Homo sapiens: one gene and its partners. The main gene of each other region encodes a partner of the protein of the gene in region 3 in a complex. Each region holds a gene or a part of one and is shown on either strand. Other genes may lie near its edges. The genes, in order: PIGP, DPM3, DPM2 and PIGQ.

The links.
Region 1: DPM2 (region 3) and PIGP share a complex: the UniProt entries of both Homo sapiens proteins name them as parts of the glycosylphosphatidylinositol-N-acetylglucosaminyltransferase (GPI-GnT) complex.
Region 2: DPM2 (region 3) and DPM3 share a complex: the UniProt entries of both Homo sapiens proteins name them as parts of the dolichol-phosphate mannose (DPM) synthase complex.
Region 4: DPM2 (region 3) and PIGQ share a complex: the UniProt entries of both Homo sapiens proteins name them as parts of the glycosylphosphatidylinositol-N-acetylglucosaminyltransferase (GPI-GnT) complex.

The regions. Positions count from the first base shown.
Region 1 is NC_000021.9:37,064,866-37,070,100, reverse strand, and holds the end of PIGP (phosphatidylinositol N-acetylglucosaminyltransferase subunit P), read left to right. Parts: intron 1-476; coding exon 477-549; intron 550-2,720; coding exon 2,721-2,839; intron 2,840-4,388; coding exon 4,389-4,519; 3' UTR 4,520-4,727; downstream 4,728-5,235. UniProt on the Homo sapiens protein: Part of the glycosylphosphatidylinositol-N-acetylglucosaminyltransferase (GPI-GnT) complex that catalyzes the transfer of N-acetylglucosamine from UDP-N-acetylglucosamine to phosphatidylinositol and participates in the first step of GPI biosynthesis.
Region 2 is NC_000001.11:155,139,387-155,145,096, reverse strand, and holds DPM3 (dolichol-phosphate mannosyltransferase subunit 3), read left to right. Parts: upstream 1-4,565; 5' UTR 4,566-4,606; intron 4,607-4,689; exon of another isoform or gene 4,690-4,766; coding exon of another isoform or gene 4,767-4,856; coding exon 4,857-5,135; 3' UTR 5,136-5,206; downstream 5,207-5,710. UniProt on the Homo sapiens protein: Stabilizer subunit of the dolichol-phosphate mannose (DPM) synthase complex; tethers catalytic subunit DPM1 to the endoplasmic reticulum.
Region 3 is NC_000009.12:127,934,855-127,942,691, forward strand, and holds DPM2 (dolichol phosphate-mannose biosynthesis regulatory protein), read right to left. Parts: upstream 3,001-7,837; 5' UTR 2,967-3,000; coding exon 2,964-2,966; intron 2,670-2,963; coding exon 2,580-2,669; intron 2,457-2,579; coding exon of another isoform or gene 2,361-2,456; exon of another isoform or gene 1,963-2,360; intron 1,925-1,962; exon of another isoform or gene 1,802-1,924; coding exon 1,699-1,801; intron 927-1,698; coding exon 868-926; 3' UTR 245-867; downstream 1-244. UniProt on the Homo sapiens protein: Regulates the biosynthesis of dolichol phosphate-mannose. Regulatory subunit of the dolichol-phosphate mannose (DPM) synthase complex; essential for the ER localization and stable expression of DPM1.
Region 4 is NC_000016.10:565,393-572,978, forward strand, and holds the start of PIGQ (phosphatidylinositol N-acetylglucosaminyltransferase subunit Q), read left to right. Parts: upstream 1-4,575; 5' UTR 4,576-4,704; intron 4,705-7,586. Other genes in the region: NHLRC4 (NHL-repeat-containing protein 4), read left to right, coding at 2,656-3,027. UniProt on the Homo sapiens protein: Part of the glycosylphosphatidylinositol-N-acetylglucosaminyltransferase (GPI-GnT) complex that catalyzes the transfer of N-acetylglucosamine from UDP-N-acetylglucosamine to phosphatidylinositol and participates in the first step of GPI biosynthesis.

The DNA of each region.
Region 1 (5,235 bases), on a different chromosome or scaffold from region 3:
TAAAGAGTGCCGAGATTTCGGATTGAGGGAAATAACATTGTACTCTGGGAGATAGGGCAGAAGCTCAGTATGTGGTGGATGAGAACTAGGGTAGGTAAATTTCCCTTTGAGCAATTAAATGTCTATAATTACTTCAACCTTGTGGGGATGAAGTATTGAACACTTACTGTACCTAAAGCAAACTGCTAGGTAATAAGGATTACAACAATTGCTAAGCCATGATTTGTATCCTTGAATTGCTTAAAATATAATGTGAGTTAAGATATTAAAAAAAAAGACTAATACAGTAATTATAAGTATTATAAGAATTGTGCAAACGAGCTAGAAGAACTGAAAGGAGGAAAAAATCATTTCTGAGTTAATCAGGGACACTTCAAAAGAGCTTTTCTGTTTTATCTGAATCTTAATAGATTGATAGATTAGATGTATGTCTTACTGACTTCTCTTCCTCTTTTTTTTCTTTTTCTTTTCTACAGTACTTTACCTCGTGTGGGCCTTTATTCCTGAATCTTGGCTAAACTCTTTAGGTTTAACCTATTGGCCTCAAAAGTAAGTTTAATATATTTCTTAAATGAGGATATAATTAATGCTGTTTTGAGGAGTCATATCATTTCTTAAACCTACCCAAATCTTAAATATTTGTTCTCTTAAAATTCATGAATAGCCATATAGAAATTGAAAGCTTTTTAAAGATCGCTATTGATACATCTCTAATTAAAGATGGTAGCATGAACACACATGTTTATCTCCATCCATTTCCTCCAAAAATCTTGTTAAAATGACCCTACAGGAAAAAAAAAAAAAACTGAAGATACAAACCACAGAAACAATAGTATAGCAGAAAAGAGATATCAACCACATTTTGGAAAGTGGATTGTGATAGGTGAGAGGTAACTGCCTTTGTTTCTGTGATTTTCACGTTGCTGAAGTAGGGAAGCCAGCAAGAATATTTGTGCCTTAGAACTCCAGAATAGCTCAGACATTGGGGTACCAGGTAGCTCTTTAATTCTGGGTTGAACTGAAAACATGTTTAAAGACCATATGAAGTCTTCAGCCTTCAAATCTCCCTCAGCCCTCAAAGCTGGGAGGCCTGCCCTGCCCTCCCCTGCAGAAAACAGGAGTTTTACTCTCTGGCAAGGTTAAGTAAGAGTCTCTAGCATGGGGGCCACTAAGTCTGAGTGTGGGAATGCGGCATCTTACTGAAAACAGGGAAGTAAGTGAAAATCTACATGGCTTAATGAGAAGATTTACCTCCTGCTCCATCTTCCCTCTTGGGGCTTCGAGGCTTATATCACCCTACTGCTCACAGAAAAAGATAGATAGTTCTTTCCTGAGGAAGCTGACCAGCCCGAGAGAAAGGATCTATAATTTCTGACATTTAGAGGACCCCAGTGAAGTGGCCAAGTCTCTCAGAGTGAGGCTCACCAGTTGACCATCCCTGCCCACATACACATAGTGCTTCCAACTCACTTGTTAGCACTTCATTTTTAAATATGAATGGACTACTCTAAGTTACCAGACATTAAAAGAAAGCCTCTAGCATGAAATGAAAAAGCAGAAAATTAAAGGGAATTTGAAGGAAATAGAGATAATGCAGGAAACAGAAAAAAAAATTTAAATAACATAAAATTCTCAGAGGTAAGAAACAATTATAACTATGAAACAAGAACAGAATGCTATGCAAACAGGAAATTACTGTATTTGGAAATTGTAAACATGATAACCAAAATTAAAATTTTAATTGAAAGACTGGAAAATAAAACAAAGGTAATCTCTAGAAGTTAGAACAAAAAAAAATGAAAATATAAGAAAGTATAATCGTTAAAAATTCAAACTATTAGAAGTTCCAGAAAGAGAAAATAATAGAGAACAAATCATTTAAAAAAAAAAAAACATCTGGCCAACATCTCAAGACCCCATTTCTACAAAAAAATTAAAAATTAGCCAGGTGTGGTGGTGTGTGCCTATAGTCCCAGCTACTTGCAGGGCTGAAGTGAGCTCAGCAGATTGAGGCTAGTGATCTGTGATCATGCCGTTGCACTCCAGCCTGGGTGACAGAGGGAAATGCTTTCTCAAAAAGAAAAAAAAAACACTCAATGAAAAATAGCACTCCATGTACATAATGATACTGAGAGGCATAATAGAGTCCTATCAGAGAATTTGAGGCTCTGGTATTGGTGGATTCCTGGGAAACCAAGTGAACAGACAAAAAGATGTAATTATTCCAGAAAAAAAAAAGTTGTACAAGAAAATATATAATAATAATGTACTAAGATCCTCAGTTGCAAAATTGTTTATGTAGGTACAATTATTTCTAAAACCTGCTGCTATAATGAGAAATTGCAATGTAAGTATAGAAGAGGATAGGAGGAGGTTAATTCCTTATCTCCATATTAGGAAGCCTAGAGAAAATGTCTGTAATGGAAAAAAATGAGGAAATAGTAATATGAGCATGTTTTGTAGCAATGAGGAGGTAAGTACCAGAAGACAGCTCAAGTGCTCAAAGCATTTCTTTTTGGAGAGTGAGACCCCAGGGTTGGGATGGTGGGATAGAGGACTGCAGTTTTTCACTGTAAGCCTTGTGGAACTATTTGTCTCTTATGTACACATATTACTTTATAAAATTTAAATTTAAAAAACATGTTGGCTTTGTGACCGACTCTTGAGAATTACAACTTTTTTAAAGTGTCTATTATGTACTTTAATATTCTCTTTGGCAGATATTGGGCAGTTGCATTACCTGTCTACCTCCTTATTGCTATAGTAATTGGCTACGTGCTCTTGTTTGGGATTAACATGATGAGTACCTCTCCACTCGACTCCATCCATACAATCACAGGTAACTTTATATAAAAGGAAAGTGCTGGGGCAATGAAAGAGTGGAGTATTAGCACTTTTACCCAGAAAAGCAACAAAGAACAGGCTGCAAAACCCATGTTGGTGGTGCGCGTCTGTAATCCCAGCTACTTGGGAGGCTGAGGCAGGAGAATCACTTGAACCCAGGAGGCAGAGGTTGCAGTGAGCCAAGATCCCACCACTGTACTCCAGCTTGGGTGACAAGAGTGAAACTCCATCCTAAAAGAAAACACACACACACACACACACACACACACACACACACACACACACGGACAGTAAAAAGAAGCTACTAAGAGAAATAAATACAAACTTATATAAAAGGAAATATTTGCATGAAGGAATTAAGTTCTGATGAATACACACTAGCTATATTCATGGAGGAAATAAATTATAATTAATTATAGCACTGGTTAGCAGGTGTATGTTCCCATAAAAACCACAAGTATATGCTATATGTGTCTATAATATGTTCCCATTAACTTTGCCTGAGAGAAGCTTATCCTGAACAGACACCGTTGATCAAGGGATAGTAAATAGTACATGCAGACCTTGTTCAGAAAAAGGACTTTGGGGGTGTGTATCCTCCTCAGGATCATTGTGTACTCCTTATTCCAATTAAGTGGATAAAAGAGCCACAACACGTTCGTCTGGTTTTATTTTTTTAAAGTTCTTTCAAGTCTAAAGATGAAAATAAATCAGACTCCTGAGCTTGCTTAAATTCTAGAAAGTAAAGTATTTTTTAAGTTCCCTGGTATGATTTTTCAACTTTTCAAAACCTTTATATATTAGCCTCTACAATGTATTTTGAAAATCAATTCTATTATTTTTAAGTGTCTTTCTAATACACTGCATTCCATGCATTCTTGATTGGAATTGGCAGCAAATAGGTAATTTGTGCAAAGAGGGGAAATTGTTAAGATTGCATGAATATTTATACCAAATGATTTAATAGTTTTGCCATGTTGATTTAAATACATTTTCAAGGCCTGGATATAATTCTGTTCCCGTGAGAAATGTGCAAATGAGACTTTAATCATCATTGTATGGTTGATTAAAATATTGATTTCTTTCCAAGTTAGAGATGAAAAAAGTACTTTACTGATGTTTTTATTTTTTTATTTTTATTTATTTATTTATTTATTTTTTATTTTTTATTTTTGAGATGGAGTCTCGCTCTGTCACCCAGGCTGGAGTGCAATGGCGCAATCTCGGCTCACTGCAGGCTCCGCCCCCTGGGTTCACGCTGTTCTCCTGCCTCAGCCTCCCGAGTAGGTGGGACTACAGGCGCCCGCCACCTCACCAGGCTAATTTTGTGTGTTTGTGTTTTTAGTAGAGACAGGGATGTTTTTATTTTAATTGGGACATTTCTTCTAAAGAGAGGATTTAAGTAATCATCTAATTATGTTAAACATGATGTTTGTCACTATCCAAACGTCAGCCTAGTAAACTATGTGGTGGGTCTCCATCAGACACAGAGACTGTAGAAGAAATTGCTTAGGTAAACAGAGCTTTTTGGTCTTTTCTTACAGATAACTATGCAAAAAATCAACAGCAGAAGAAATACCAAGAGGAGGCCATTCCAGCCTTAAGAGATATTTCTATTAGTGAAGTAAACCAAATGTTCTTTCTTGCAGCCAAAGAACTTTACACCAAAAACTGAACTGTGTGTAACCATAGTAACACCAAGCACGTATTTATTTATAAGTTTTTGCCATTATAATTTTGACCATAAATTAATTTGACCATCTCTCTTATTAATAGAGAAGTAAAAAATGTAAGTTGACCTTCTCTTAGATTATGTTCAATGAATATTGTAAATGTTCAAGTATTGTTAATGAATAGAATAAATACAATATTGCATTCCCATATAGCAGACTTAAAAAAAAAAATCAATGTCAGTATAATCAAGAAGTTCCTCCAGAGAGGCATTTATATTGTAATTTGCAAAGGGCAATGATGTCCTTCCTCCTGTTTGTCCTGAGGGGCCCAGAATTCAAACCCTTAGTTTTTGGGAAGGGTACAGTTAGTACTTGTGCCATCAGATTCATGTCTAAGACACAAATATTTGTTGAGTACTCACTGTGTACCAGGTATTTTTCTAGGCACTGAGGATGAAGTAATGGTAAGATTCTCTCTCAAAGAGCTTATAGTTTTAGAAGCAGGGTGAGGCAACTAAGCAAATAAACAAGGAAATATAATTTGATGAGTGCTATGCAAAGAATTAAGATAATGTATTCTAGAATGCAAAGGGATGACTAGTTCACATTGGGTGGTCAAGGAAGGCCTCTCAGAGAGAGGCTGTTGGGATCTAAGTATAAAGCAGGTGAGGCAAAGACCATAAGGTGGGAAGGAACTTGGTTTGTCCTAAGAACAGAG
Region 2 (5,710 bases), on a different chromosome or scaffold from region 3:
CCATTCCTGTAGCAGCAACACAGTAGAATGAAAGTGCTAAGAATATAGTTTTGGGTCCAATGAAACAGCTTTGCTGTTTACTATCTGCACAACCTTGAGCTAGTTACTTACCTTTTGCCCTCTCTGTGTCATGGTTTCCTCATTCATACATGGGAATAGAAAAGTACCTACTTCATTCGGCTGGGTGCGGTGGCTCACGCCTGTAATCCCAGCACTTTGGGAGGCCGAGGCGGGCGAATTGCCTGAGGTCAGGAGTTTGAGACCAGCCTGGCCAGAGTGGTGAAACCCCATCTCTATTAAAAATACAAAAATTAGCTGAGCATGGTGGCAGGTGCCTATAATCCCAGCTACTCGGGAAACTGAGGCAGGAGAATCGCTTGAACCCGGGAGGCAGAGGTTGCAGCGAGCTGAGATTGTACCACTGCACTCCAGCCTGGGCGACAGAGCAAGGCTCTGTCTCAAAAAAAAAAACAAAACCCAAAAAACAGAAATACTTTATAATTTATTATCTATCCTTATATGTGGTGGTGTAAGCCCCTAAAATGTTCTGGGGAGTTTCAGGGCCAAGTCTACTGTGTATGAATAAAATGGACTTTCTGGATCTGCATCTGCAATGCTCGTGTCCAGCCCCTGTAAGTATACCAATATTTGAAAGTCATTGTGACCAGTGAGTCCTTGATTGAGAAACCAGAAAGATTTGGTGTGGAAATGGAAATGTGGCTAGGGCTTTGAAGGTCGTATAGCAGGTTTAAAAACATTTTTTTTTTTTTGAGACAGAGTCTCGCTCTGTCACCCAGGCTGGAGTGCAGTGGCACAGTCTCGGCTCACTGCAACCTCCGCCTCCCGGGTTCATGCCATTCTCCTGCCTCAGCCTCCCAAGTAGCTGGGACTACAGGCACCCGCCACCACGCCCGGCTAATTTTTTTTTTTTTTTTGTATTTTTAGTGGAGACGGGGTTTCACCGTGTTAGCCAGGATGATCTCGATCTCCTGACCTCGTGATCCACCCGTCTCCACCTCCCAAAGTGCTGGGATTACAGGCGTGAGCCACCGCACCCAGCCTAAAAAATGTTTTTCGCTAGGAGCGGTGGCTCACGCCTGTAATCCCAGCACTTTGGGAGGCCGAGGGGGCGAATCACCTGAGGTCTGGAGTTTGAGACCAGCCCGGCCAACAAGGTGAAACCCCAACTCTACTAAAAATACAAAAATTAGCCAGGCATGGTGGCAGGTGCCTGTAATCCCAGCTACTCGGGAGGCTGAGGCAGGAGAATTGCTTGAACCCGGGAGGCGGAGGTTGCAGTGAGCCAAGACCGTGTCATTTCACCCCAACCTCGGCGACAAGAGCAAAACTCCGGCTCAAAAAAAAAAAAAAAAAAAGTTTGGGCTGAGCGCGGTGGCTCACGCCTGTAATCCCAGCACTTTGGGAGTCCGAGGTGGGAGGATCACAAGCTCAGGAGTTCGAGACCAGCCTGACCAACATGGTGAAACCCTGTCTTTAATAAAAATACAAAGATTTGCTGGGTGTGGTGGTGCGTGCCTGTAGTCCCAGCTACTTGGGATGTTGAGGCAGGCTAATCGCTTGAACATGGGAGGCAGAGGTTGCAGTGAGCTGAGATCATGCCACTGTACTCTAGCCTGGGCCACAGAACGAGACTCTGTCTCAAAAAAAAAAAGAAAAGTTTTTATTTGTTTTAATTTTTACTTTAACAAAGGAATTTGTATAGTTTTAAAAGCCAACTAGTTCAACAAATATTTTTCGGGGTGGCGGGGCATTTTCAAGTGAAAACCGGGAAACCTGCTCAACAAATTCTGAAAGCTGTAACTTCGGTGGGCGCCGTGGCTTACGACTGCAATAGCAGCACTTTGTGGGGGCTGAGATGAATTGCTTGAGCCCAGGATTTTGAGACCAGCCTGGGCAACATAGGGAGACCCCGTCTACACACACACACACACACACACACACACACACACACACACACACACTAGATGGGCGTGGTGGTGGTGGCCCACTTCTGTAGTCCCTGCTACTCCAGAGTCTGAGGTGGGAGGATAGCTTGAGTCCAGGAGGTCGAGGCTGCAGTAAGCCATGTTTGCACCGCTGCTCTCCACCCTGGGCAACAGAGCAAGACCTTGTCTGAAAAAAAGAAAAAGAATAGAAAAAAAAAGAGCTGTAACTCTACAAGGCTTTTAATGAAAAATAACCATCCCCTGCTCCTCTTCTTTAACCCTTACATATACAACCTACATATACAACTACGCTCCAGTTTCTAGGCTGCTTCTTCTGGTACTTATCTGTACATTTCTTCAAGCAACACTCCCACCTAGGCCTCCCAAAGTTCTGGGATCACAGCTCCACTGTCCCCAGCTCCAATTTTTAGTTAAATCAATACTTAGTGTTTACATCGTTACGGCTGTGAAAATTTTCTTCACAGCTGAGCCATTTGTGTTTGTGCTAAGACTGTGAATCTGTAAAAACTGCTTTTGTTAATTAACATCCAGGACATACGGCTGAGAAACTTCATTTTCTAAAATCATAGTCACAAACTTTGCTATTTGAAATCAGTCAGTGCGAATGGAACATCCTACTCTTGCCAGAAGTTCTGAGCCACGTGGATTACTTTGGCCTCCCAAAGTGTTGGGATTACAGGCACGAGCCACTGTGCCCAGCCTAGATAGTGGGTTTTTGGACACTATATTCTATATTTATCTTGACTTTGTAATTTCCAAGTGGTCCCTCAGCTTGGACTTCTTGATCCCTTCACTTAAAGTTATGCTTACCTCGAACCGATCAAAACACTGTTTCATTTAAATTTTAGCTAGCCTATAGTATCAGCCACTTGGGAGGCTGAGGCAGGAGGATCACTTGAGCCCAGAAGTTTGAGCTTCGCCTGGGCAACATACCGAGACTTCAACTCTAAATAAATAAGTAAATAAATTTTAAAATATAAATTTTAAAGTCAAGCCTTTCCCATATCCTGTTGTATTAGTTCATTTTCACATTACTGATAAAGACATACCCGAAACTGCAAACAAAAAGAGGTTTAATTGGACTTACAGTTCCACATTGCTGGGGAGGCCTCAGAATCATGGCGGGAGACAAAGGCACTTCTTACATGGCGGTGGCAAGAGAAAAATGAGGAAGAAGCAAAAGCAGAAACCCCTGATGAACTCATCAGATCTTGTGAGACTTATTCACTATCATGAAAATAGCACGGGAAAGTCTGGCCCCCGTGATTCAATTACCTCCCCTTAGGTCCCTCGCACGTGGGAATTCTGGGAGATACACATCAACTTGAAATTTGGGTGGGGACACAGCCAAACCATATCATCTGAATGACCATATTTCTTCCTTTTTAATGAGTTGCCCCACAGTTCTTCTAGTGTGTGATCTCTCTGTTGTGGCAAGTTAATAAACCTAACTGTCAAACTACAGATGTGGTCTTTATAAGACAGGCTTATCAATTGTCTTTCCTTTCTTATATAACTCTTTGTTTCCTCTGAAGTTGATAATTGCCTAACCTTTTCTCTTACTTTGTTCTCTCTCTCTCTTTCTCTCTATACATAATAAATTCATCCCCAAAACTGTTCTAAAGAATTATACTCTTTCTTTCAATGCCTTCACCACTTCAGGTAATTCTTCTGGTCTTTCTTTTCTTTTCTTTTTTTTTGAAACCCAGACTCCTGGAGCCCTTCTTCCTCTGGCTCCAAGTTATATTGGTTGTTGTCCTTGTAAAAATATGACTACCTCTGTTCTAACAATAATCTCAAGCCTTCATGGTTAGTTGTCAATGCAACTGCTTCACTGACTCCTGCTTTCCCCCTCCACCTGAAAGGGGTCGAGTCTCTTGACATCTCTGTATCTCCAAAGTCTATCATGGTAATCAAGAAATGTTCTGGCCGGGCGCTGTGGCTCATGCCTGTAATCCTAGCACTTTGGAAGGCTGAGGTGGGCCAGTCACTTGAGGTCAGGAGTTTGAGACCAGCCTGGCCAACATAGTGAAATCCCCGTTCTCTGCTAAAAATAAAAAAATTAGCCCGGCGTGGTGGCGCGCGCCTGTAATCCCAGCTGCTCGGGAGACAGAGGTTGCAGTGAGCTGAGATCGAGCCACTGTACTCCAGCATGGGCAACAGAGCGAGACTTTGTCTCAAAAAAAAAAAAAAAAAAAAAAAAAAAAAAAAGGAGTTCTGTCCCGCCTAGGCACTATAGAGAGACCCTGTCAAGAATGGAAAGAAAGAAATCTTCGAATGAATGAACTAGTGAATGAAGGAATGGATTTCAGCGCTGGAGAATTGAGTTTAAGGGGAATGGTATTATATTCCCATCTTGTTGCAACATTTAAGGATGTCCTCAAGCCCCACGCCAGCCTGGAGCGTAGCCCAAGGTGGGAAAGCAGCGCCGAGGCCTCTCCAGACCCGGCCTGCTCCCCGTTTGCGGAGCACAGCCCACTGTACCCCCGCCTAGATTGAGGCGCTGGCCAGGAGTACACCAGGCGCCGCCATGTGAACTACAACTCCCAGAAGGCCGCGCGGAAGCGGAACGTGAACCAGGGAGGACTTCCGGACGCCAACATCCGGGCCGCGCGGGGAAGGGGAGACGTGGGGTAGAGGTAAGTGTAGGTTGAAGGCTGAATGGGGAGGGCGAGAGATGGGGAGTGGGTCTCAAATATAGAGGGGGTAGCAAGGTGGAAGGGGCCCTTCCACCTTTTGTGGGCACTCAAGTTCGGACCTCTGGGATCGGCGATTCCCCTCTGGCCAGGGCTGGTTTTAATGCTCTCCGTGGGCGGGCTTCGGTTGAGTTTGGTCCGCTTTTCCTTTCTGCTCCTCAGGGGAGCATTGCTTCCTTCTCTCGCAGTGACCATGACGAAATTAGCGCAGTGGCTTTGGGGACTAGCGATCCTGGGCTCCACCTGGGTGGCCCTGACCACGGGAGCCTTGGGCCTGGAGCTGCCCTTGTCCTGCCAGGAAGTCCTGTGGCCACTGCCCGCCTACTTGCTGGTGTCCGCCGGCTGCTATGCCCTGGGCACTGTGGGCTATCGTGTGGCCACTTTTCATGACTGCGAGGACGCCGCACGCGAGCTGCAGAGCCAGATACAGGAGGCCCGAGCCGACTTAGCCCGCAGGGGGCTGCGCTTCTGACAGCCTAACCCCATTCCTGTGCGGACAGCCCTTCCTCCCATTTCCCATTAAAGAGCCAGTTTATTTTCTAACTTCGTTTAGTTTGAGTATGGAAAACGGGTATTGGGGATTCTATGTACTAACGGTCGAGAAGTGAATGTGAAAGAACCACCTTCTTGAGGCCATCTCAGCCTTTATCTTTGCATCTTGCTGGTGTTCCCATTTTTGCTCCCAAGGAGGCAAAGACCCCTTCTCAATATTTCTCAGGATGGAAATGACATTTCACTTTCCTGGTCCTTTCAACCCTGTAGGAAGTACTTCTTTTTTTTTTTTTTTGAGACGGAGCCTTGCTCTGTCGTCCAGGCTGGAGTGCAGTGGCGTGATCTCGGCTCACTGCAAGCTCCGCCTCCCGGGTTCACGCCATTCTCCTGCCTCAGCCTCCTGAGTAGCTGGGACTACAGGCGCCTGCCACCACGCCTGGCTAATTTTTTGTATTTTTAGTAGAGTCGGGGTTTCACCGTGTTGGCCAGGATGGTCTGATCTCCTGACCTCGTAATCCGCCCGCCTCGGCCTCCCAAAGTGCTGGGATTACAGGT
Region 3 (7,837 bases):
TAAATCCAACCCGGCCAAGCTGGCACAGGGGAGGCATGGCAGAGGGGTGCCAGGGCCTCCAATGACTCCCAGCTGTGAGCTCCATTGGGTAGGAAGCACATCTGTCCCAGTCCCTGCTTTATCCCCAGCGCACAGGGTCAGGGCAGAAGGCCCCCGAGTCACCCCTACTGTACAGGATCTCCTGACCCAAGACCGCTCCCAGCCCGCTCCAGCCCCGACCCTGGGTAAACACGGCACAGAGACAAACACACCATCAGTGTTTATTGGTCAGCTGTCCCAAACGGGCCAGCCCTGGGGCTTTGGGGCTGGGCCTCCGTGAGGAGAGGTCAGTCGGTCAGCGGCCCGGGGTGGCTGCCCTGAGCCCCAGGGCTGGTCCTGGGGTCTGTCAGTCCTTCCCCAGGCTTTCCAGGTCCAGAAGGCTTTGTGGGGTCTGGGGCTGTGTCAGGGTAAGGAAAGCTGCCTTGGTGGAGGAAGAGAAGTCAGAGAGGTCACACATGTGGCCTTAGAACCTGCTAAGTCCAACGTCAGCATGTGACAGGAGGGGAAGTGAGGCAAGACGGCAGAACCCAGGGGAAAAGGTGGCAGGGAGTCTGAGAGTGAGGTTGGGAGGACCAGCATCTTTTAGGCCCTGAGCAAGAAGGAGGTGACCGGAGTCTTCCAGGTATCCCTCCCTCCTAGCTTCTGGAAGTGGGAGTCGGGGAGGGGGCTCCAGTCAGTCAGGTGTAAGCTCCATGCCATGGGGACTCTGCAGGACAGGCAGGCTTGAGGAGCCACTGTGCCTGGACAGGTTCTGCAGGCTCCCCCACTTGGTCCCTGTGCTGGAGGGGAAGCAGAGAAGGGGCTGGCAGCCTCATCCCTGCGGGACCTTCACTGAGCCTTCTTGGTCACTCTCTTGGTCTTCAGCATCACATAGGAGATGAACAGTCCTGGGATACACAGACCAGAAAGGCCACATAAGATCTAAGCTCAGGGCTGCTGGGAGGCCAGGGCATGACACAGCAGAGCCACCCACACACAGGGCTGTGAACCTACCCAACCATCCTCCAGGGAACCTGCTTATCTCCCTAGTCATTCGTCAAGGCATATGTCTACTCACATTCACTCAACAAACACCAACTGAGTGCCTGCCTCAAGCAAGATGCTGCATTTAGTGTTTCAGATTCCAAGGGGAACAAGATCCACCCATCTATCGATCACCCGGTCAACCACTTGTCTGTCCACCTACATACCTACCCACCTCCTCCTACACCTCACCCACCCACCCATCCATCCACCCATCATCCAGGCACCCGGCTGTTGACTGACTCATCCAAATGACTTTCTGAGCACAGCCTCAGTGCCACAGCCTGTTCTAGATGTGCAGTAATGATGGAGACACAGTCCCCATCCCTAGGAAGCCATGAGAGAGAGAGGTGCAGGAATTAGAAGCCAGGGTGACAAGAGGGTGACTGAGGTGTGAGCAGAGTGATGATGGGGTTGGGGCAGGAAAGAGGTAGACAGGTCATTGGAGTCCAAAAAGCCTGGGGCACCAGGAAACCCAGAGGTTACTGACTGGCAGCCTCGAAGGATGAACAGGAAAACCCCACGGGTGAGTTCGGGGCAAGCAGCTTCCAGCACCGCCAAAGTGTGGAAGCATGTTCAGAGGTGGGGTCTTCCCGAAACCCTGCCCAGGGTCAAGGGGAGGAGGTGATGACTTACCCACAAACAGGAGCAGCAGGAGGCCTGCAGCCAGTGGGATGGCGACAGCATAGGCTCGGGGCAGGAAATACTTGTGGATGACATGCTGACTGTCGATGAATGGCTGGCATCGAGGGAAGAGCTCTGGTGTGTCTTGCTTGCCTTGCCGAGCCCCCAAGCCCAAACGTCCCACCTCCTCCATCTAAGGGGCTGACCCATTCAGAGGACTGGGACTGCATTTGCTTTTCTTTAAGATTACGGCATTTGGGTGTCGTGGTTTGTTTCTTTCCTTAATTTCTTATTGGTATTTACCGGGCACTTGCTTTGGTGCCTGCTATAGGTTGGTGGTGGGGACAAGAGAACAGGGCACAAGAGACCTGCCCTAAGGCACCTCACAGCCTAGCAAATGGTACTTGAGGAATCCTCGACTGACTCCCAACCTGGGCCTCCAGGGCTTCTTCACTAATATTTTTTCTCTAAAGGATACCAAGTTCTGCACTTCCAGACACACTGCACTTCTTAAGCAATAACCAACAAGTTTTCCCACAAGAAAAAAATATCCTAAAGGCCTTCACAAATATCACTGGCGTTTGCCATGCCTAAGAGTCAGCAGGCTAACCCAGAAGGAACAGAACTCCCCCAAAAGTCAAAGCAAGCCGGAAACAGAGTTATAAGTGTAGCGGCTAAGGATGCAATCTTGGGCCAGATCCTTCTCCCCTAGCCTCAGCTATCTCATCTATAAAATGCGGTACCACTGGCATCTTCCTCATAGAGTTGTTCTGGAGAGTTCAAGAGATGAGGCAGGCAATGAAGCCAGCGCCGTGCCTAGAGCCTATATAGTAGTTGCTCTGGCGGTGCCAGGGCTCGGGGAAGGTGAGCAGCGGACGGGGAGAATGACATACCAAGAGAATCACCCAGGCGGTGTAGTAGGTGAAGATGATCAGGCTAACGGCGACGAGGCCGAGTCCCACCACCTGGTCTGTCCCCGTGGCCTGGAGAAAAGGGAGGTCTCAGCTGACGAAGTGACCCTCTATTTCGGCGCACTAATGGAAGCGGGGCGTCGCGGCCCGATCACGGTCTAAGCTTCCCATTCAACAGATGGTAGAGGGCTGACTAGGGATCAGTTTCTAGGCTGGGAGAGAATGCTAGGCCTCCGCGTTGTCGTCCGTACAATAGTGGGGGCGGGAGAGCAATCCCCGTTCCAAGTGCCCATGCCCCAGCTCCTGAGCAGACCCGGGACCCCACCCCCAGACGCCCCTATCTCCGGCACACGGTGCCAATCTCACCATTTCCCCGCGCGCTCAGCCACCCGAGCCGCAAGCCACATCCGGTTCCGGGTCCACGCTCTTCCGGCTTTGGACTGCGGAGCACGCCGGGAGTCGTAGTCCCCAGGCCTGCTCGGGCCCACCTCGTCGGAGACGAGCAGGAACCGCCTCCTCTTCTTTGCATATCGGCGAAGTGTAGTTCTCAAGAGCATTGTGGGGCCGGTTGCTGCCCGAATCTCTCTAGGGAATGGGACCGAGTTGGGGACCCAGACTCCCTGGCCTTCATGGCCACAGTCCTGTCGCCGCCCCACCAAAAGCCAATCTCTAAGTATCCCAGAGTCCCGGGGCCAGAGTGGGATGGGAGTGCGGGATCGGAAGTTCCATTTTTCAGATGGGAAAAGTGAGGCTCAGAGAAAGGTAGATCCCATTCCGAGTCAGTGGTGAAGCCGACACGGAAACCGGGTGCCCTACTTAGTCTGTAGGTGGGAGAGGTGCAGAGAACGTTCACTTTCCAGCCTAGGGTGGGCGGGGGAGGGTCTGTCCCTAGCCCGCATGGATGGGGAGGATTTGGTGGAGAGGAGGCGCCCTCCTCACCATCGCCCGGCCTCCCGGGCCACCCTTCGGATGTCCCCTCCCTTCCTTCACCGACTGTCTCTCGCAGCAGCCCAGACACGTTTCGGACCGGGACCCACGCACAGGCCCCTCCCCGGTCTTGGAAGGCCCTTCCTCTGAGAACAAAGAGATGTTGGGCCAGATCATCTTCCACGCTTCTTCAGCTCCGAGATAGGAACGCGGTCCCCCACCACTCACAGGCCGGCTGCTCCTCACCCATCCGGTCTCACTGGGACGCCACGTTCCTCAGGGAAGCCAGTCGGGAACGTTTTTTTTGTTTGTTTGTTTGTTTTTGAGACGGAGTTCTATGTTATCCAGGCTGGTGTCGAACTCCTGGGCTCAAGCGATCCTCCCAACTCGGCCTCCAAAAGTTTACAGGCGTGAGCCACGGTGCCCAGCCTCCTGTGCCTTTTAATTCACTGATGCAATTGTTGATCCAGCCCTGTCAGCCCCGAGGGTAGGGTCTGAGGTTGCTGCTGTATCCCTGGCACTCAGTGGAGGCTTGGCCCAAAGAAAGAGGTTTTTTTGTTTTTTTTTTTTTTTCCCAAGACGGGAGTCTCACTCTGTCACCCAGGCTGGAGTGCAGTGGCATGATCTCAGCTCACTGCAACCTCTGCCTCCTGGGTTCAAGCGATTCTTCTGCCTCAGCCTACCGAGTAGCTGGGATTACAGGCACGTGTCAACACGCCCAGCTAATTTTTGTATTTTTAGTAGAGATGGGTTTTCACCATGTTGGCTAGGTTGGTCTCAAACTCCTGACCTCAGGTGATCCACCCACCTCAGCCTCCGAAAGTGCCTGGATTACAGGCGTAAGCCACTGCGCTCGGCCCAAAGTAAGAGCTTTGAACCTGTCAGCTTTAAGATTGAGTGATTGTTTAGATACTGGAGTACAGCATCTGGACTCCAGGCCTCCCTGAGGGGTTATGTGGAGGCCTTTGGCCTGCTGTCCCCACCTGGGGAGTTTGGGGAGAGATGTGCTTTGAGCCTGGCATGGTTCGCTCCCTCTGGCATTTATCTCCTTGGTTGGTTGGAAGCCCATCTCCAACTATGGAGTCTGCCCTCCCAAAGCTGACAAGAGCAACTTTTTTTTTTTTTTTTTTTTTTGAGACGGAGTCTCGCTCTGTCACTCAGGCTGGAGTGCAATGGCGCGATTTTGGCTCATTGCAACCTCCACCTCCTGGGTTCAAGCGATTCTCCTACCTCAGCCTCCTGAGTAGCTGCGATTACAGGCACTCACCACCACGCCCAGCTAATTTTTCTATTTTTAGTAGAGATAGGGTTTCTCCATGTTGGTCAGGGTGACTTCAGGTGATCTGCCTCCTGCCTCAGCCTCCCAAAGTGCTGGGATTATAGGCGTGAGCCACTGTGCCCGGCCAAGAGCAACTTTTTTAAACCTACAGTCCAATTCTTTTCCCTTATCTCTCAGGAGACTTTGGGCTCACCTAGGAGCCCACTTTTACCTCCTTCCTCAGTTGTGCATATAACAGAGGAAGGGGCAGAATCGGCCTTCAGGGTTTAAAGGGGCCATGAGTCGGGGTCAGCCCTGAGGAGGAGTGGGGTGAATGCTATCCCAGGATAGAGATGGAGCCCTGGTGGCCTGATTCCTCCTGGCCTGGCCAGTACCACTGAAGCTTCCCAACACCTCCAAGCTTATTAAAGAACCAGAGTGACTTGCCTGTCCCAGAGAGACTTGGGATGGTCAGAAACGGGGGTGAGGGGCCCGGGGCAAGCCAAGCCTGTAAATGATGGCAGCCTGGGGCTTTAGTTTGGGAACACACTCACACCTCCTACAGGTCAGGCTGCACACTCGTGTTATTTGATAACCCCATCTGCAGGTGAGGAAACTGAGGCGCAGTTATTTGTCCTCAGGCATGCTCCTTAGAGGCCACTTGATTGCAGAGAAGGTCTACAGAGCAGTGGTTAGAACTTGGCCCTGAGGACAGAGCTTTTGCTCCGTATGAGGCTGGCAGGTAACGATCTTCTCAGTTTTCTCCCCAGGAATCTGGAACGATGAAGGTGATGATTGTGCCTGTGGCCAAGACCGGGAGAACCCTGGATCCCTACACCTTCCCCACCCCTGGAATGTCACTATACATATCTGACTTCTTCTGATGTTGCCTTTGACCCTAAAGTCAATATGATAAAGTAACAAGGTAAAAACAAAACAGCAAAAGAAACAAAAACCGAAACATTTAATTTTTTCTCCCCAAACCAAGACGCTGACACTAGCCTGAGTTCCCCTAACAATGTTATTTTCTACAACAGAAGCTGGGACAGAGGAACAAACACAGCCCACTCAAGCAGTGGTGGCAACATTCTGTTAGAAAGGAGGGGAGTCAAAGAAAAAAACACCCCTCCGCCCATCTCCTTATCACCTCCCTAAAGACAGAGGAGAACATGGACACCCTCCATCCTGATAGACATGCCATGTGGTCAGTTTGTGCGGTAAACAGGAAAAAAAAAAAACCTAAAGATATTGTAGACCTTTATTTTCTTTAAATCTCCTAATAAAAACATTAAACTTTCAAGAAGATTCCAAACTGACATTGCATAGACCAACTCCTTTCCAAAAATATCTCTGATATACTCTCCAACTCTCTCAATATATAGAATTTGAAGTCCAGGAGCTGTGGGCACCTGGTGGGAATTCACTGAGCTCAAGGGGACAAGAGGGCTGAGGACAGGGCTCCCACATGGGGACAAGGCCAGGCTTTCTGGCCTCTGGTTCCAGCCAGCATCAATTTGGTTGTGGCCAAATTCTCAGTCCAATCACCCTGGCCCAGGGCCTGGCGTGGGAGGATGTGGCAGGCTCTGTCTCCTTCTGGGGTTCCTGGTCTGGAGGAGTCTCCCCAACAGCGCCAAAGCTGGCTGTTTTCCACCCAAAGCCCCAGAACTTTGAATGAGAGGCAAATCTACCCTGAATGCACCTCCCTCCTAGGCTGGGTGAGGTCACGCAGACACAGAAGGGCAGGACAGAACTCCCCATCTTCTGGGGGCCAATTCGTCTGGACACTGTGCGGTCAGCTTCCTTTTTAAAGTGCCAGTATCGGTGGGGCAGGAAGGGACTCTCAGGGCTGAGCAGAGCCTTCTCCAGCGCGAGCGAACACTCTGTCCCGCCTCGGCAGGCACCTTCTAACATTCATTTTCTAAGGGTTAGGTGAGTAAAACAACAACAAATGCTGGAAATGCTCTGTTCCCAATGCCAGGGAGTTCCAAGACCAAGAAGCCCAACTCTCACCAGCGGGGGCAGATGGGGAGCTAGGGAAGGAACCCTCCCAGCCTGGGGAGGGCACCTGCACCCCTCCCAGAGAGAGAAGCCCCCATCCCGGCCCCCCAGCTGGGCCCCAGCGCTGCTGGAACCAGCCGGCAGGTGGGGCAGAAAAGCAGCACCTCCCCTCACCAGGGCGAGGAGGCAATATTGAACCGTGAACTCAAGAAGAAAGACGGAAAGAAAAAATGAAAAAAGCTACAGGGCTAAGTAAACACCAGCCTGCTGGGTTTATACAAAATGAGTGAAATTTAAAAGGGGCAGGAGAGTTTGTCCAGGGACTGGCTGGCAGCCAGAACCCACCTTCAAGCAAGTTACAAGGACTTGGGGGAAAGTGCTGAGAGCAGAGGCTTTAGTAGGGGGCAGGGCCAGACTGCTCCCCACTGGGAAAGCACACCCCTTAAAGGAGCCCTTCCCCCTTGCCCAGAACGGGGGATGCTTCCAGAGGAAGGCTGAGGCTTTTCTGGTAAGGAAGCCAGCTCCGGACCAGTCCAGCCACAGCCCACCTGCCTCTCTGGCATCCGCCCCAGTCTGGGCAGCTGACCCTGAGGGCAGAGAAGGACTTTGCTTGCTCCAACCTTCCTGCAGGAAAACCAGCTGCTCAGGACCCAGCCCTGGGCAGAGGGCACGGTCGGTGCTCAGACCTTTCTCAGCACGGGTCTCAGACCTGAGCTGGAGCTAACTGGAGGAAGAGGCAGCACCCGTTCCCGCCGGGCTGCTGGACCCTGGGCCTCTGACTGCACAGCAGGCAGTGACCAGGAGTCCTTGGGAAGGAGCTCAGGGAAGGGGAGGTGAGGGGCCAGTGGGACTGTGCTGGGGGTGAGCATGTGCAAAGTGCAGGCTGCAAGGCAGCGGGAGGACATTTGCCGGGGGGAGGCAGGGGTCTCGATCTGGAGTGTGGGTGGGGTCTGAGGTCATGGCTCCCAGGAAGAGGCCGCCAGCAGGTCCCCCAGGACACAAGGAAGGGACAGCTGAAGCACTAAGCAGTCAGACAGTCACAGGTGGCAGGATTCCG
Region 4 (7,586 bases), on a different chromosome or scaffold from region 3:
TGCCCCGCCTCCGCATGCATGTGGATAGACCCCCACGGGCCGTGGCCAACGCTTGTCCCTGGGGCCACACAGGGACACTGGAGGTCACAGTTATTTATTGATCACAATTGTGGACATTAAAACAGAAACTGTTCACACACGCCGTCTGTGCCTCCTTCCTTTGGGGCCCTAGTGTAGCCACCTGGACACCCCCCTAAGGAAGTGTCCTGGCCTGGGAGGCCTGGGTGGGCAGCAGTCCTGCTGGGCCTCTGTCTTCAGACTCGGCCCTCTCCTGTGGGCTGGGCCCTCCCCGCGGGGCTGGGGTCTGGGGGTGGGGCGGGACATCGGCGACGGGAGCTGAGCCAGGAGAGCCGTGTGGACTGGGCTGCTCGGCCTGTGTCTTGGTGTGTCGGGGGTGGAGAGGCGTGTGGACTGGGCTGCTCGGCCTGTGTCTTGGTGTGTCGGGGGTGGGCACGGACCCCTGAACATCCTCTAGCCTCTGAATCCAGCAAGGCCGCGCTCATATCAGCTCTCCTGCGGTTAAACGGTGGCCCCGGGGCTCTGTGGCTGGAGGCTGCTCACCCAGCGTGGGCTCTGCTGGCCCCTGCCAGCCCCTGCAGCCGTGATAGGTATCAGCCTTCACAGCTCACTGCCTCCCTCCCAGCAGGGCCTGGCTTGGCCCTCCCACGGGCAGGGGATGGGCAGACAGGGAGGGGCACCCGGGACCCCCACAGCAAATCACTTCTCTCCTGGGAGAGCTGGCCACACCCTCCACGCCCACCCTGGAATGGGCTCTGGAGCCCACATCGCCCCCCCAGGAGGAGAAGCAGTTCCTGCCTGCGTCCAGCCGGGCTGGGGCCAGTCCAAGCAGGCTGGCAGCGGCCCCATTAACTACCAGGGAGATAGCATCAGCCCCGACCCTGCCTCGGGGCAGCTAGAGCTGGGGTGCTGCCTGGCCAGGCGCGGAGTGCTGTGGGGACAGGTCCCAGCCGGGCCCCTCTACCCAGAGGCTTCCTGGAGGGGCTGCAGGGGGCTCTGGGCAGCCAGGAACTGTTCCCAAGTCCCGAGTCTGAGGGAGACTCCCTGTCCTCAGCCCCCGCCCCCCATATGTCCACTGCACCCCATATGTCCACTGCACCTCAGTTTCTCACCCCCACTGAGCAGACAGGTGAGCATGGCCTTGCTGGGGGCAACAGCACCCGTCTCCCAGGTGTGGAGACACGACCTCCTTCGCTGTCACCCGTGGGGAGCAGGACAGGCCTCATGGAGGGTGCCTCAGCCAGCAGGTCACCCGCCTGTGGTCCAGACCCAAGGACCCTGCTTGGGGGTGGCAGCCTGGGGCTGCCTTGCCACTTGGAGTAATGAACTTGCTGGTTGTGGGGGGACCATGGGGGACCCCTGGAGGGGGGTGGGCTGCATGGCATCTGGCCGTGTAGGGGACGTGGGAATAGTGTCCGGGCAGAGGGCGCAGCCTGCAACAAGGCGCGGAGGCAGGAACACCACAGCATGGGGAGTCCTCAGGGGACCTGGTTTTTCTTTCATAGAAGCTTCAGGGGCCAAGGCCGGAGACTGCACTCTCCCTCCTCCACCCGGCCCAGCTGCGTCCCTGCCAGTGGCTCCTCCCACTTCCTCCAGTTCTAGTTTCCAACAACAGAGGCTGCAGCCACCCAGCCCCGAAGCAGGGCCCAGCGAGACAGGGCCCAGGTAAGAGACCCCTCCCCCCGGCCTCTCTCGGTGGGGCAGGTGGAGGCCCTCGGAATAGGCTGCCTCGCCCCTAAGGGGTCAGAAGTCTCCCTGACCTAGGGGCTCGGGTAGAAGGGCTGTGTGTGGGTGACCGCCCCCCCGCCGTAGAAAGGGGTTCCACAGGCAGATGGATTTGAGAAATGTTGCTTATCTGTCTGAGGCCCATGAGCTCATCTGGGGCTCAGGGGAAAACCCACAGCGAGCTCCACGGGTCATGTGTCTCCCAGACTCAAGTCCCAGGCACCTAGACACTAGGGTGGCCGCTGGGCTTGGTGGCCAGGTAGACCCTCAGGACCAGGAGGACCCGGCCTCATAGGAAGAAACTGGAGGAGTGACTTTGCCATTCCCACACACAGTGGGGCCTTATTCTCTCTCTTGCAGCCCCAAGCGTGACCCAGCTGCAGAGAAGCTGAGACGGTGATTCGGACTGACTGGACTCTGGCCTCCAGGTGTCTGCACCTCACACTGGACCCACCTGGAGACTCCACGGGCTCCCGGCAGCTCCGGCTGCTTGGGTGGATCCGGGTGCCCGCAGGGGCTGTGGGAGGGCCCCGGGGCCTGCACTGCTCCCCCGATGGCCTGCTCTTCCTCACGGCCGGGGCTGCACCCTGTGTCCACGTGCTAGATCTGGAGGGACGCCCCATCTGCCTCCTGCCCTGCCGCACTCCGGGGAGCGGGGCCTTCGTTCCAGAGGACGTGGCTGTGACAGCGTCAGGGCTTGTGGTGGTCAGCGATCCCATCCATGGGGCTGTCCATGCACTCCAGCACACAGCCCGGGACCCCGGGGGCCACTGGGTGACAGTGGGCACCTTCCTGTCTCCCCGAGGGCTGGCTGTGGATGCCCTCAACCGCCTCCTGGTGACGGACTACTTGCCTGGGGCTGTGCACAGCTTCTCGTTGGGTCCTGCTTGGGAGCCCCTGGCCCCAGCCTCCATGCTGGGTCTGGAGGGCCCCTGCTGGGTGGGCCCAGGGCCTGATGGGGGCCTTGCTGTGAGTGAGGAGTTTGGGGATGTGAGGCTGTTTGGCAGTGCCCGCCAACCCCTGGGCTCCCTGGGGGGCTGGACGGGGCACACTTTCGGCTGCCCAGCGGGCATCTGCTCCAACTCAGAGGGCAATGTTATTGTGGCAGACGAGCAGAGGCGCCAGGTGACCCTGTTTCCCCGGGCTGGGCCACCCATCTGCCTGGTGTCAGAGGGGCTTGGGCAGCCCTTGGGAGTGGCCTGTGCACCCCAGGGCCAGCTCCTGGTGGCTGATGCCAAGGACAACTCCATCAAGGTGTACCAGGGCCTCAAGGAGCTGGCCTGACCTGAGGCTGGGTTGGAGCAGCCCTCCTGTGCCTGAGGCCAGCTCCCAGGCCCTTGGATCACCGCGGGAGGAACCCTCAGGATGGGTGGAGCCTCCAGGCTATGGGCATTGCCTGCCTGATGCCAGCACCACCTGGGCTGGGCCCTGGGCTTGGCTCGAGTTCTCCTGCTGGTGAGGCTCCGGATCTCAGGAGCAGCCCTGAGTCTGCTTCCCAGGCTGCCCCTGCCAGGCCTGCAGCCTCCCCAGCCAGGGCTGCTCTCTGCTGTCCCCATTCAGTGCCCTGGCCCCTGCATTCATGCCCCCCACACCCCCTCAGGCCCTGTGCCTGGACTTTGGGGCTGGCAGCTGAAGCCTTGAGATCCTGGGCCAGCTGCCGGCACACAGCTAGGCAGACTCTCCCACCAGGTGCCCCTGCCCAGGCCTCCTAATCGGGGGCAGACAGGCAGGGAGGGTGTGGCTGGGCTGGGCTGGGCGGGGCGGCCTGGGGCAGGGGTGTGGCCCCTAAATGTCCCCAACCTCAGAGGGACCTAGAGTCCTGAGCCTCCAGTAGCTTCTCTGGGCCTGGCAGAGGTAAGGGGGAGGCAACCCTGGAGTGTCTGGAGGCCCATGGCTGGCTGAACCCTGGATGCCTTTTCTTCCGCGTCCCCATGAATGAAAGCTGTCTGGGCCTTCATTCTGCAGACAGGGACAAACAGCTCCATGCTGTTTGTCCTCCCAGTGCAGCCGTGCTGGGAGGGTCTGGGGGAGCTTCCTACAAGGAGAGACTCCTGCTGCTTTGGAAAACTGAGAAAAAATAGGGGTCTAACCCTCTCCTCCCATTTTACAAGTGGGGAAATGAGGCGTGAAAGGAGAGGCGTCTGGGTTACTCCGTGGGTCTGGGGTCCAGGGAAGGGCCTGTATGGGGGAGGGAGCTGGGAGGGGACGGTGTCTGGCTCTACCCCTGTGGGGTGGGGAGGTGGGGCTCCCCTGTATCACAGGACATCCCCCCTGAGAGGTCCCTCATATGTCTGGGTCCTGTGGGTGGGGGACTAACTGCGCAATGTAGTTAGGTGCTCAATAAACGGAGTTGCCGCTGAGGTCTGGGCTGGGGTCTTGTTCCTGGGATCGGGAGGGGCTGGACGCCTGTGTGTTCTCTCCTGACGATCGCTGGCGGCAGCCTCTGGGCTGGTCCTACCAGGGCTCAAAATTCCCGGCACCACTGGCCTTGGGGATCTGGGGGCGGCCCCTCTGCAGACAACAGAGTGACGGGGGCGGGACCGGGCTGGGGCTGGGGCCTTCCTGGAATCCCGCAGGGCCTGGGGACCTGTTCACTTGGGGAGGCTGGGAGCCAGGCGGGGTCCGGGTTCCACGAAGGCCAGGTCCAGTCAGTTTCTCAGGTGAGGAAACCGAGCTGACGCGGGGCTGGCGGCCCGGAGGCAGGCTCGGGAGGTCCGGGCCTGGGGACTGGGCGGGCACGCTGCGCCGCGGAACGCTCGGGTCGGGCGGGCGGGCGGGCAGCCCGGGCGCCTTTGGGGGCCGGACCGTCGCGCGGCAACGCGCGGAGCCGGCGGAAGTGGGGCTCGGGTCCCGCGGCGGGGCTGGAGGCAGCGAGCGCCGTCGTCTGCCCGGGCCCGCCCATCGGGGTCCCCAACCCCATCCGGACCCCGCCGCCCGAGCGCGCGGCCCCGGAAGCACCCGGTGAGCAGGGGGGGTGGGCGGCGCGCGGCGGGACCTCGGGCAGCGCCCCTGCGGCTCCGGGCCTGGGCTGGGGGCTCCGCACTCCCGCCCGCGGCGCCGCTGCTTTCTCCTCCCAGAAGTGGGGCCGCCCCCGGGCCCGCGCCGACCTGGGCCCCTGTGGACCCTGTGCAAGGGCGGTCGGCGGCCCGGGCCTGGCTGTGGGCCCTTCGCAGTTGTCCCGGTTTGCAGGAAAGGGCAAAAAACGGAATCGTAGGCTCTTCCCAAATGAGAGGGGAAGGCCCTGCTTGAGGAAGGCAAGCAAGTTTGTTTGTTTGTTTGTTTTGAGACGGGGTCTCACCATGTTGCCCAGGCTGAACTCGTGTTTGTTTTTCATTATTTATTTATTTTGAGAGGGAGTCTCGCTCTGTCGCCCAGGCTGGAGTGCAATGGCGCGATCTCGGGTCACTGCAACCGCTGCCTCCCGGGTTCCAGCGATTCTCCTGCCTCAGCCTCCCCAGTAGCTGGGATTACAGGTGCCCACCACCACGCCCGGCTAATTTCTGTATTTTTAGTAGAGACTTGGTTTCACCCCCATCGAGGCTGGTCTTAAGCTCCTGACCTCAAGTGATCCGCCCGCCTCGGCCTCCCAAAGTGCTGGGATTACAGGCGTGAGCCACCGCGCCAGGTTGGTGTTTATTTTTCAAACAAGGCGCTGGGAAACGCAAATTCTCCAGAGCTCTTGTGGAGCGGTGGCAGGGAGGGGCGGCTCAGCCAGAGATGGCCCTGGCCCGTCCTAACTGGGCTGGGGTGCCCCCATTCCCTCATTCACGGGGAGGAGAGGGAAGTCTTAGTCTTACTACTTTATATGGTCGACCTCCCTACCTGCCTGGTCTGGGAATGGCTTCTCAAGAGCACTCGGGCTCATTCTTAGCAGAGGAAGCTCTTCTGGCTAGCCTGGCGCCCGTGTGTGTGTGTGTGTGTGTGTGTGTGTGTGTGTGTGTGTGTGTGTGTGTGTGTGTGTGTGTGTGTGTGTCTGGCTAGCCTGGTGCCCGTGTGTGTGTGTGTGTGTCTGGCTAGCCTGGCACCCGTGGCTAGCCTGGCGCCCGTGTGTGTGTGTGTGTGTGTCTGGCTAGCCTGTGTGTGTCTGGTTAGCCTGTGTGTGTGTGTGTGTGTCTGGCTAGCCTGTGTGTGTGTGTGTGGCTAGCCTGGCGCCCGTGTGTGTGTGTGTGTCTGGCTAGCCTGGCAACCATGGCTAGCCTGGTGCCCGTGTGTGTGTGTGTGTCTGGCTAGCCTGGGACCCGTGGCTAGCCTGGTGCCCGTGTGTGTGTGTCTGGCTAGCCTGTGTGTGTCTGGTTAGCCTGTGTGTGTGTGTGTGTGTTTGTGTCTGGCTAGCCTGTGTGTGTCTGGTTAGCCTGTGTGTGTGTGTGTGTGTGTGTGTGTGTGTGTCTGGCTAGCCTGGCGCCTGTGTGTGTGTGTGTCTGGCTAGCCTGGTGCCCGTGTGTGTGTGTGTGTGTGTGTGTGGCTAGCCTGGCGCCCGTGTGTGTGTGTGTGTGTGTGTGTTTCCTCAGTCTTTAAAGATGCTCACGTTGCTTTCTCCCGTCCCATACCTCCTCTGCTATCGATCGCTTCTCTTTCATCTTCCTCTGGCTGTGTGATCCCAGCAGCTGCTAGTGCAGGCTTCTTTGTGCCGCCGACCGTCCCAGAGGCTGAGGTGGGAGTGTGATGGGCGTTTGCCCCACAGTACGTTGAGTTTTCTCTCACTACTCGACAGAGAAGAGTAGCTTCTGCCCTCCCATCTCCTTCGGTAGACACAAGGCACTTTTTTTTTTTAAGGTAAACTTTGTAGATGAAGCACAAAGAATACACACAAAGAAAGCGCACAGATCGTGAGCACGTAGCTCGGTGAATTTACCCAAAGTGAGCCCACCGCAGAACCAGCTCCCCCTAGAACATCTGTTTACTGTTAGACCCATTGTGTTTCTTTTCCGACGATATCTGTGGGCAGTTTTCCTTAGTCCCTGTGAAAGCTCTTCCCCAGCAGGGCGTGATGGGTCCCTGGGCTGAGCTGGTGTGAAAGGTGGGCTGTACTGGGTGGTCCCCTATGGTGGTCACACAGCCAGACACGCTGGGCCCCTTGCAGGCAGAATCACTTTGTCCCTCTCACGATGTCCTTGGTGCCTCACGTCAGCTGGCCTCCAGGCATCCACCCGCCGCCTGCCCTCTCTGACCACTGAGGAAATGGGCATTTGAGGAGTTCTGCAGCCTGACCCAGAAGGTCCCTTTTCAGCTAGAACCCACCGCCTTGAGTGACTGGATCCTCCAGCCCCAGTGCGGGCTGCCTGCAGGGGAGGAGAGCAGCTGCACCAGGGGCCTCTTAAGCCCCAGGCATTTCCGTGTGAGGCCTCTTCCAGAGCCCCTCCAAGCTTCGGGAGAGGACTTACAGGTCACACCACCCCGACGTGTGCATCCTGCTCTGTTCCCTCGTCCCTAAGGATGTGGTGGGCTCTGAGACCTCCAGGCATCCTGGTCTGTTCCCTCATCCCTAAGGGCGTGGTGGGCTCTGAGACCTCCAGGCATCCCACTCTGTTCCCTCGTCCCTAAGGGCGTGGTGGGCACTGGGACCTCCAGGCGTCCCGCTCTGTTCCCTCGTCCCTAAGGATGTGGTGGGCACTGGGACCTCCAGGCGTCCCGCTCTGTTCCCTCGTCCCTAAGGATGTGGTGGGCACTGCGACCTCCAGGCGTCCCGCTCTGTTCCCTCGTCCCTAAGGGCGTGGTGGGCGCTGGGACCTCCAGACCCAGGCTCAGGCCAAGCTATGTCCCTCCCTCGAGTGTGGCTCCAGCGTGGGGGGTCTCTGCTCAGGGTGGCCGCTCCACTCTTCGTGCAGGCGAGATGGGGCTTTCTG